2 separate regions of the Homo sapiens genome follow, and region 1 is linked to region 2. The links come from fine-mapping of genetic effects on gene expression. Tissue or cell type: subcutaneous fat. Region 2 holds a variant in brackets; the other region holds the start of a gene. All regions are shown on one strand. Distances are between the middles of the regions.

Region 1 (5,152 bases), 140 kb after region 2:
ATCTTTTGAAAACCACAAATGTATTGCTGGGTATTTTAGGAAGGATGATTTAGGGGGAGTGTAGGACTGGATTCTGACATAGCCTAACAACCTTACTGAATCCTGAAAATAGAGATGCCATTAGCAGAGAATCTCCACAGCACCCTTTCCTAGCAATCTGCTTCAGCTCTTCAGTGAATCGCCGCAAAGAGGTCCCACATTGAAATCGTCACATGCAGAACTCAGAAGAAACCCACTACCCACTCTATTCTTGAGGCCTGGCTGCCAAAGAGCCACCAGAGAACAACAGCACTCAGCCACTCTGTCCCCATATTTCAATTAGTAGGCAAGCGATTCTAAAACTGTACACTATCAGGATCGTAGAATACTTGGGCAAGACAGAGCTTCGTAGACTGCACAGTCCAATTTCTTTCTTACTTCTTTACCACCTAAGTTAAAATATTTGTCTCTCTCTCCCTACACACACACACACACACACACAGAGAGAGAGAGAGAGAGAGAGAGAGAGAGAGAGAGAAACCGATGAGACAGGAAGGGTGAGAGATTTTCCTAAGGCCAGGCTGCAAGTTAGATCAGAGCTGGAATTAGAACCCAAATCTCATACCTAGAGCCAGCCAACTGCTATTCTAGACTCAGGACAAATCTGCTTCAGTGTCATGAATTCTACATATGCTAAATTGGGCATTCATATTTTATCTGAGGTTGCCTGCTATTGACTCCTAAAGGAACCCAACAAAACCACCTTTCTGAGCCTTTAATCACTCTGCCAGTTCCAAGCTGAAAACTTAAGGCAAGTTACTTAACATCTCTGGGCTCTTTCCTCATCTAAAATTCATGGGTTGAACTGCAGACCTCGGAGGAACTTTCCAGTAATAAAAACTCTGCTTTTCATCTACTGTTTTATGGTTCATTCTTGATGTTTGCAATTTTCACTAGGTGGCAGGATTCCACCATCACATTACGAAAGGATTTACATATGATGCCTGGAAGCAAAAAGGAGTTTCAAAGAAACTTCTTTCTTCGCAAAGGACACTAAAAAAAAAAAAACGTAAAAGGCAGAGGGAAACAATAACTACAAAAAAAAAAGAGTAAAAGCCAGAGGGAAACAAACAATAACTACAAAGGCAATGGCCCATGTATTTCATAAAGATCTGTACCCATTTTTAATATAAGCATAAAATAGGAAATTAATCCCATGCTCTTGCATGTTCTTCAATACAATACTATAATTTGCAATTTGATGATAAGGTTAGGTAAAAGTTTGCTTAGTTTTGTGCATTTTAAGTTTTATTTTAGCTGAATGCCAATTAGAGAATACCAGATCCCCTTGGGCTAACCAGTAATGCAGGCAATCTAATGGCAATAAAAACTTAAAGCATTTTAAATAGTTATTAATGTGTTACAAAGTTACCTCTTAGTTACTCATAATATATTTAGATTATCTTCTAAGTTTATTTTTGAGATCTTGACCAAAAGAGTACATAAGAAGGAATACAGCATTTATTGGATTTTTGCATTTATTTGTCAAATCCTTAAAAGGGTATTCTTTTAAATAGATTTTATGACACTTCATCATACTTTTAAAATTATTGCCCAACATTGGCCTTTTCATGAATGCTGCATAATAAATGTCACTACCAACACTCTATATGAGTCCCCAAAATAGCCAAGCAAAGTCGTTATGCTGAACTGAGCGTTTCTCCTCTGCCAGAGCCAAGTGAAGTGACATCAAACAATAACTCAACTGAACATTCTAAAATTGCCTGGAAGAAACGCTCCCCAGTGTCTTGCTTGTTGTCAGAAGAACATGGTTAACTAGGCCTTTTCCTCAGCTGATAAATATGGCATTCTTCCCACCCACCCCTCATCGATTGCAAGTTAATTACATAGGATGTGGCCCATTACTCTCCAAAGTTTCTTAGAAAATAACTCACTTCCTAGAAAAATCTTAATATCCGCAGCAAAATCAAATAATACTTAGACTTCTGCATCAGAACCTGAAAACACCATCAGCAGGTTGCTTTCATTCCTTCCTTCCTAGCACAGAGCCGTGACACTTCGTTCAGGTCCTACCTTTGCAACTTGTAAGGGCTGCTTCTGCTCCTTGCCACCTTGCAATCTGAACCCCCAGGGCGCCCCTCCAGTCATGGAAATGCAGATAAAATCCCCTGTGCCCATGTTTTCCTTTTAGTTGGGCAGCATGAAGAGCTTGACGAGACAGACGAAGCTTGGGTGCGGTAGAGGATGCGCACTCAGCTTCGGGCGCCTGCCGAGGACGCAAGACTGGGTAATGCAGAGCGTCCGCCGCTGCTGCAGCCGCTGCCCCAGCCGCCGCCCCAGCCGCCTGCTGCGAATTTGTGCGGCTAATGGGCTCATTCTCAAGGAGGCAGAGGCGCTCGCAGCATCCAGGACACAGCCCACTCTTGCGTCACTCTCCTTTGCTCGGCCCACCTTCGAGGAAAGGAAAGCAGCTTCACACACAGGAGAATGTCCTCACGTGGGGCGAGATAAGGGAAAGGAGGACGGAAGGGAGAGCCAAAGTTATCTTGCACTAACAGATTAAATCCAAGCAGTTAATGGTATAAGTATGATTGAAAAACTTACATTTAATAATTCTGTAAATAGTAAAGGACACATGAAGGTTTAATCTCCACGCCATGAATGACGTCCTAAAATAGGAGCGTTGGGAATTCAACTACTAGAGGATTAGATTCTCTCAAATAAATGTTTTGAGACTTGCCACATTTATGAATGGAATAGACAAAAAAGAGTTAAAATGAGTTAAATTACTACTTTTCTGTCTGCATTCTGCTGAATTATTCCTATAAGAGGAAACAAAAGAAAGCACAAACTTTTTGTTAATAAACCTCCAGCTCTGAAAAGTACCTTTCTGAACCATATATTTAGAGAAAGGGGAAGAGAAGAGACAGAAAGGGAGAGAGAAAGAGAGAAAATGAATATGAATTTTTCTCCTGGAAACTACATTCTTATAATTACATCTATTGCATAGTTTTGGGTATGTTAAATTTTAACGTGTTTTGTTTTCTTTCTACCTGCTGATCTTCTTAAACCCAAACCCAACAGTTAGTCAACTGCATAAAATGTACAATGTCACCTACAGGTTTCTTATTTTTATAGTTTGTCATCCCATGTCATGAATCTGGGTGGTCCAATATAAAAGCAGATTTTGTATATTCCAAATATTTAAATGTTTTAAATCTGAATACAATCTGCCAAAAATGTACAAAAAGGACATTTTAATTTTCCTATAATACTTTTGTTTTCCATAACATTCATCCACATAAAAACATACTAAATAAGGAAGAGCCTGGGAAAGTTTGTTTGTGTTACTTGTGGTACCAAACAAAATTTCCAGACACGCTGCCTGTTTCAGCACTAAGAAGCACTATATACAGTAAGTCCTCACTTAAAACGTCACAGATAGGTTCATGGAAACTGTGACTTTAAAACCAATTTTACCATCGACTAATTGATAAAAACAAGGTTAAGTGACTACAGTCTATTTCTGGTCACAAAGACATCACCAAACTTTTAAATAAGATTAAAACACTTCTAATATTAAACATGGAAATAAATGTCAGCTACACATGCATTTAAGAAAGATTAATAAAAACAAGATAATCATGGACCCAATTTTTGGTGAATCAGTGAGTGAGGGCAGCTGTAGTGGTGGTGGATTCAATCAAGGAATAAATGTTTGCAAAAGGAAAATTATAAGGAGTACCTCCTGTCACAATGCAGTTCAAAACCACCACAAATATAGCAGGCTCACTGAGAAATTTCATACAGCATCATCTATTGCTGTGCATTTGTGTGATTAACATATATTTTATGAATTTTTTTTGAAAATAATTTGCATCCATACATTCATTCCTCCTCCAACCCACTTATTCCCATTCAGGATCTCCAGTGGCTTGAGCCTCTCCCTGCAGCTTAGGGCGCAAGGCAGGAATCAGCCCTGGACAGCCCTGACCATCCCATCAGAGGGTGCACACACACACACACACACACACACACACACACACACTCACTCAGATGGGGACCATTTAGACATGCCAGTTCATCTCATGAGCACAGCTTTGGGATGTGGCAGGAAACCAGAGGACCTGGAGAAAACCTATACAGACATGGGGAGAACTTTCAAACTCCATACAAACAGTGGCCCCAGCTGGAAATACATTTTTTTTTCTCATCAATGTTGTCATGAAACAATGTTGAATAAAATGGCATTATTCAAGGACCTGTGGTACAATGAACATTTTACACAGCCCATGCTCCCCAGAAGCCAAAGGCATCAAGTGATTTTATTTGTGACTCATCACTGGAGTGAGGACAATGAAATCAGAGATTGTGGCACTGGAAGAGACCCTTTGAAGGTCATGAGGGCCAGATACTCATCCCAAGTTTGATTCTTTTCAGAAACACGAATTGACTTTCCCAGTCTTTCCTTTAAACAATAGTTACAAGAGACATCATAAAATATGAGCTTTGACACTAATTACAATAGCAAAGACTTGGAACCAACCCAAATGTCCATCAGTGATAGACTGGATAAAGAAAATATGGCACATATACACCATGGAATACTATGCAGCCATAAAAAAAGAATGTGTTAATGTCCTTTGCAGGGGACATGGATGAAGCTGGAAGCCATCATTCTCAGCAAACTAGCACAGGAACAGTAAACCAAACACCACATGTTCTCACTCATAAGTGGGAGTTGAACAATGAGAACACATAGACACAGGGAGGGAAACATCACACACTGAGGCCTGTCGGAGGGTGGGGTACAAAGGGAGGGAGAGCATTACGACACATAACGCATGCGGGGCTTAAAACCTAGATGACGGGTTGATAGGTGCAGCAAACAACCATGGCACATGTATACCTATGTAACAAACCTGCATGTTCTGCACATGTATCCCAGAACTTAAAGTAAAAATTTTTAAAAAATGAGCTCTGAGAACAAAGAAAAAAAACACTTTCATATTTGTTCTTTTTACTTTTTCATGTCCCTTCTGCTCCTCAATCCACTCAAGTCTAGCTTCAAATTAGTGATGGTGTCCTCCTTAAATCATTTCTCCCTTAGGCTTCTTGGGCCCAGCAAGCTCTAGGCTTTCTTCTTGCCTCT
Region 2 (5,152 bases):
TCTCCCCTGGGTAAAACAAAATGCCATACAAAGCACTGAATTTAAATATATTTTATGTTTGGAGACATTTAAATGCCTCCACATGGCCCTGGAGACTGACTTCTGTGTCTAGAAGGTAGATGAAACACTTTGCAGTCAAATGAAGACTTACACAACGGAGAGGATCATGTAACTGCTCAGTATACACATGTCCTTGTCTGTCAAACTCACTTCTGCAAGCATCATCAAGCTGCACAATGATTTTTTTTCAAAACAAGGATCTGCTTTTGATATCAATGGTAGAGCTTTTATTTTAAAGACACCTCTCAGTAGCAGACTCAACAGTTTTTGACATTTAAACTGAGTCCACATGACTTCAAGTGCTTTCTTATGCTATTTTAACATGAACTATTTCAACTGTCTGAAACAAAATGAACAGGCACATTGACAATATTATTTTCTTTAACAGTTCCTGTGCCTTTGGGGATAAAAAGAAATTCATGAAAAATGTTTAAATCTATATGAAGTTCGGACTTATTGCTTCCTATTTAGAAATTGGTATTCTCCACAATTTCACATTTGTGATTTTGTGCATTAATTAAATATTTCTTTAAGCCAATGAGAAACATAAGAAAAATCTTGCTGAAAAACTCATGCAAGCAAAGAAGCAGCAAAATGCCCCCAACTCCCAAGCCCCTTCTGAAAGCCCAGGCAGAACTTACGTGCATGCCGCGCTCGGTGCTTGTGAGGTCTGCTGTGATCTTTTTCCGAGCGTGGATCTTCTCCCTGCTCTGTGCCTTCTGATGAGACGGCAAAGGATACCAGAGAAGGAGGTGCTTCTGACTGCCCTCCTTCCACTGGAGAATCCACACACTCCTTTCCTGCCTGAAGCCTGCACCCTTCTGTCTTCTGCCTGTCAGAGCAGTCGAGGATCACTTCCACCCGGGGCAGTCCCGCATCTCCTGCTTCACTTTCCTGGATCACTCTCAACTCTCTGCCACTGGAGATCTGGATTATCTTGCTGGACCTCAGGAAAGGGTCTGCTTTCTCATTAGTAGGGATCGAATTTATGTGGACAATCCTGTCATGTGACAAGTTAGGGTCTGGGTCAGGAGACTTAGATTTTTCAGCTCCCGGGAGAGCCACTAAAGGGCCACTAGCGCCCTTATGTCTCTCCTGTGAAAGGGACAGTTGCAGCTCAACCACAGGCCCAGGCTGTACCGCTTCTACCTTCTCCCTTAAGATCAGCTCTTCTGCCACGCGTCCTCTTTGGGAGTCAGGCATTTGGGGAGCCCTTTGGTAGCTCGGGCCTGTTTCTTCTTTCAAGCTGCCTGCACAGTCGGGACCACTTCTTTGGTTCTCAGCTAGGGGAACTTCAGTCTTGACAGGGGCGAGGAAGAATTCTGTGCACTGGGTCTTTGTGGCCGGTCGAATCTGCAGGGTGGTACTTTCCACATAACCCCCATGTGTGAGATGCTCGAGGTTTTTGTTTTCATTTTCAGATATCAAAGCCTCACTTATTCCACTGGATGGTCTGCACACAGAAAAATCATTCCAGACACTTAAATCAGACTATGTTACATCTGCCAAAGAACTTCCTGACACTTTTGTGATGTCTAATATGTGATATAGTCAAAATATTTTCTTCTAAATGTCAGTTGCAACATATTTGAAAACAGAAGGTGGCAACATGTTCATATTATTACTTAAAGAGATACCAAATAAACTTTTTTAAAAGCACAAAGAAACTCTTACACAAGATTATGAAACCTGAATCCATCCTAAATTCAGCTTTTATTTTTAAAAAACTACATGGATCCCGTTTATCTGTAAGTACTTGGAATCTGGGTATCTCTTATAATGAGTTTGCTAGAATGTGACAAAGCATTTCAATGTCTTATTGACTAAGTTTTGGTCTAGACATTATGAAGTCACATAAACATATCCAGCACCTTCAGATCAATCTTAACTTACAGATAACTCAACTAGTCCTTTTAGAGGCTGTGCTTTCTTGAAAGGAATGAAATAGAAGCTGTTTTTTAAGCCCCAGTGAGCATGTGTTTCGTAATAAGTGGACCCAGCCCAGTACTCTTGCGTAAAGAGAAATCCTTTCCGTGCTGCAATGAATCATTAAGTCATGGAGTATTTATAATCTGAGATGTCTCCCTTTCTTCTATTTG[G/A]ATCTGTTTCTTGGAGCATTTTCTTTTTAGGATATCTGAAGTCAAACTGTTCCTTTATCTCTCAGCTAAGGAGCCTAGAGCTGTACACCACAGCTCTTTGATTTTGATCTTCCCAGTTGTCTGTGCAAATTTGGGTTTCTGAGAAGAAGCAATGTCAGTTTAAGAGTTAAATAACTTCTTTCTGAAACTCTAATTTAAACTGTAAATGTTTTTAGAGGTATTATTCACAGAACAGCTGTAGGAAATGCCTTCATTTTTTATATTTGTATTTTTTTTAATTTTGGAAGCAGCATAATTATCTTTGCCCCTTTCCTCCTTCCTTAAAAGACAGTTATGACTCATGCAGGCACGTCAGCTGAAGGGCGTGAGCTTCTACTTGGATTCTACTCAAAGGAATTTACCTTAGAATTTATGTGGTAGTGCAATTTCCGACCAATGCTCAAAATACTTACTCCTACCTTTGCTTTCAACTGCATTTGGCAAAACAAAACTAAACAAAATGAAAACAAACTAACAGTTAAACAAAATGCACCTTTCTCTATACGCAAGTAATTGGAAAAGCTTCCCTGTAATACAGTATTTATACAACATTATAATATCGTATTAAAAAAGCATGATGTTAGCAAATTAGATCATTATTATGTAGAAAATGTTAAATACATTGTTAAACTGAATTTGAGGGTACCAAAAGGTCAGAGAGTTTTAATTTAGGAAGGCCTTGGGATGGAAGTAGATTAAATCACTTTGAATAACGTTAGCAATCAATTGTGAAGCTGAGAAGAGAATAGTTTCAATTCATGCCAGCCTTGTAGACCAATACAGACAAATGGCCAGATAAATATTAACATTTATCAGCAGCTGAAGTAAAATAAATAGACATGAGTAAATATCATAAAAGCATGAGCGAATAAAGCTTTATGCCTTAAAACATTCATTTCCCATCAGTCTACATAGGTATTCATCAAGTCCACAATTTATGTGTCACAATTATAGAATTTTTAAAATCTTATTTTAAGAACATTCAAGATAATAGAGATGGAATGTTAAAGGAGTTATTTTAAAATAGTCTTACTGAGCTATCTCTGGGCAATAGTTCAGGAAAAGTAAAAACACTTGTCCTCTACTGATAGATGACAGTGATATGAGTGACAGAAATATTTATTGCAGGAAACAATATTCAGATATTTAAAATAGTGGTAGTGGTGGTGATGATAATAATTGCTTTTGACTTGATTTTCAATTGAGATTCCACTTTGAATCCTACCAATTAGTTACTTACTTTGTAATTTTTTTTATTTTATAAATTTAATTATGTATTAGTAAATTATGTATTTTATAAACTTATTTTCTCTTCATAACATGAAGGAAGGATTCTAAGGCCTTAAACACTGAGTTTGATGGGTAAATATTTAGATTATAAGAATAATGCTAGATTTCCATTGTTGTCTCAAGATTTTGGCCATAGTGAGTTCATTTTCATCCCGGAACAGAATCATACTGAATGATTAGCAGAGGGGTAACTGTGCGTAGTGTTTCTGCAGAGTTGAGGAAAAACCTGGAGGACCTTGAGGTTCATCTTGAGATGTCCTCTGACATCTTCCTAAAAGCTGCTCTCCAGGAAGCCAAAGCTTTCCTTTCTGGATTCATTATCATGCAATAGCCAGAGCTTCCGTTGCAAAATCAGTATGGATTGTACTGTGATTTGTACACCATAAAAATGTCAATGCTGTAGTTTTCCTTGTTATTGTCCTCATTGTTTTCTTTTGTTTTTTACATTTAAAGGTTTCTTTTATATTGTTAAACAACTATGTGGGGATGGTGGTATTTGAAGAGATTGAATTCCCAAATGACCTGTGTTGGTCGTGCAAAAACCTTATTCTAATCATCTGCTTTTGTCCATCCTCAAATATTGGTTTTACTGGAGAAATCCGGCTGCTTGTAAGTTTTTGTTGTTGTTTCTCTTTTCTGTCTCTTAAGCATCCTTTTAATGAAAAATTGTACAGTTTAATGGTCTAATATTTAAACATTTTTAATTCATCTGTGCATCTGATAATTACAATTGAGTGATTCTGATCCATCACAAAATCTTGACCTATCAAAGAAATATTAAGTTATGCTCAATATACTGAGCTTTCTAAGGAAGGAGCCTAAAATACCTAAGATTTTCAACAAAGTGCTTGAAACAAGCATTTTCAACTTAATTCTCAATTAACCAGAAAGTTTGGTTGACTAGAATTGACTATTTTTCAAACACAGTGGTGTTTCTGTTTAACTATACCTAACCTTCTACAAAGCACCCCTAATTTCTCCATAAATGACAAGTTATATATGTAGTAAAAGCTATAATCATTCCCATGTAGCTTCAAGAGAAAATACATATTCCAGCAAATCTGTTGTACCTTTTGATGAGCATTTGGAGAGAGTCTGTTATGCTTTCCATGAGCTTGATGACTTCAGGGTAGGTGAGATCTGCACAAGGGTTGCCATTGATGGAAACCACTTCATCTCCCTCACAGAGCCCAGACCCAGAGGCTTTGCTCTGATTTCGAATCTGAGTGGAGTAAAAAAAGAAGACATAGTAGAATGATATAATTTGTAAAAAGCAAGCCACCATCTCTGAGAAACAAATCTGTCAACAGTAACACCAGCCCTGAATTTTAATTCACCTGTTAACCTGTAAGACCATTTAAATACTTCTTACCACCTTATGAACACACACACAGCCACACACTTTATCATGTACCATAATATGAACATTTAATTCATAGCATTGTAAGTAAACAGGAAAAAAGAAAGTAAATAAATCAATGTAAAGGTACCAGACAGAATTAAAGAAATAAAAAATAGAGAAGAGTGAAAAAAGATGTTAAAGGCTTACATTGATGGCATTAAAAATAATTATTCAGGCCAGGCGTGGTGGCTTATGCCTGTAATCCCAGCACTTTGGGAGGCCAAGGCGGGTGGATCACGAGGTCAGGAGTTCGAGACCAGCC

Alleles and levels. Positions count from the first base shown, and alleles are read on the strand shown. Sizes are in standard deviations (SD) of each study's normalised expression.
With allele G in place of A in region 2, the expression in subcutaneous fat of the gene that starts at base 2,361 in region 1 is higher (small effect, 0.17 SD a copy in GTEx).

Evidence for each region. PIP is the estimated chance that this variant, and not a neighbour inherited with it, causes the effect.
Region 1: it holds the start of SYNPO2, and the variant in region 2 is fine-mapped to the expression of SYNPO2 in subcutaneous fat (GTEx, PIP above 0.99).

The regions. Positions count from the first base shown.
Region 1 is chr4:118,886,063-118,891,214 of GRCh38, reverse strand. It overlaps SYNPO2 (synaptopodin 2), which reads right to left and starts at 2,361. Exons shown (of 5, transcript NM_133477.3): 1 at 2,074-2,361. The coding sequence starts at 2,178.
Region 2 is chr4:119,022,988-119,028,139 of GRCh38, reverse strand. It overlaps SYNPO2 (synaptopodin 2), which reads right to left. Exons shown (of 5, transcript NM_133477.3): 2 at 4,559-4,710; 3 at 702-1,513. Among named protein-coding and RNA genes, the nearest start is that of SYNPO2-AS1, 41 kb to the right of the region's middle. The variant G/A (reference allele first, on the strand shown) is at 2,160.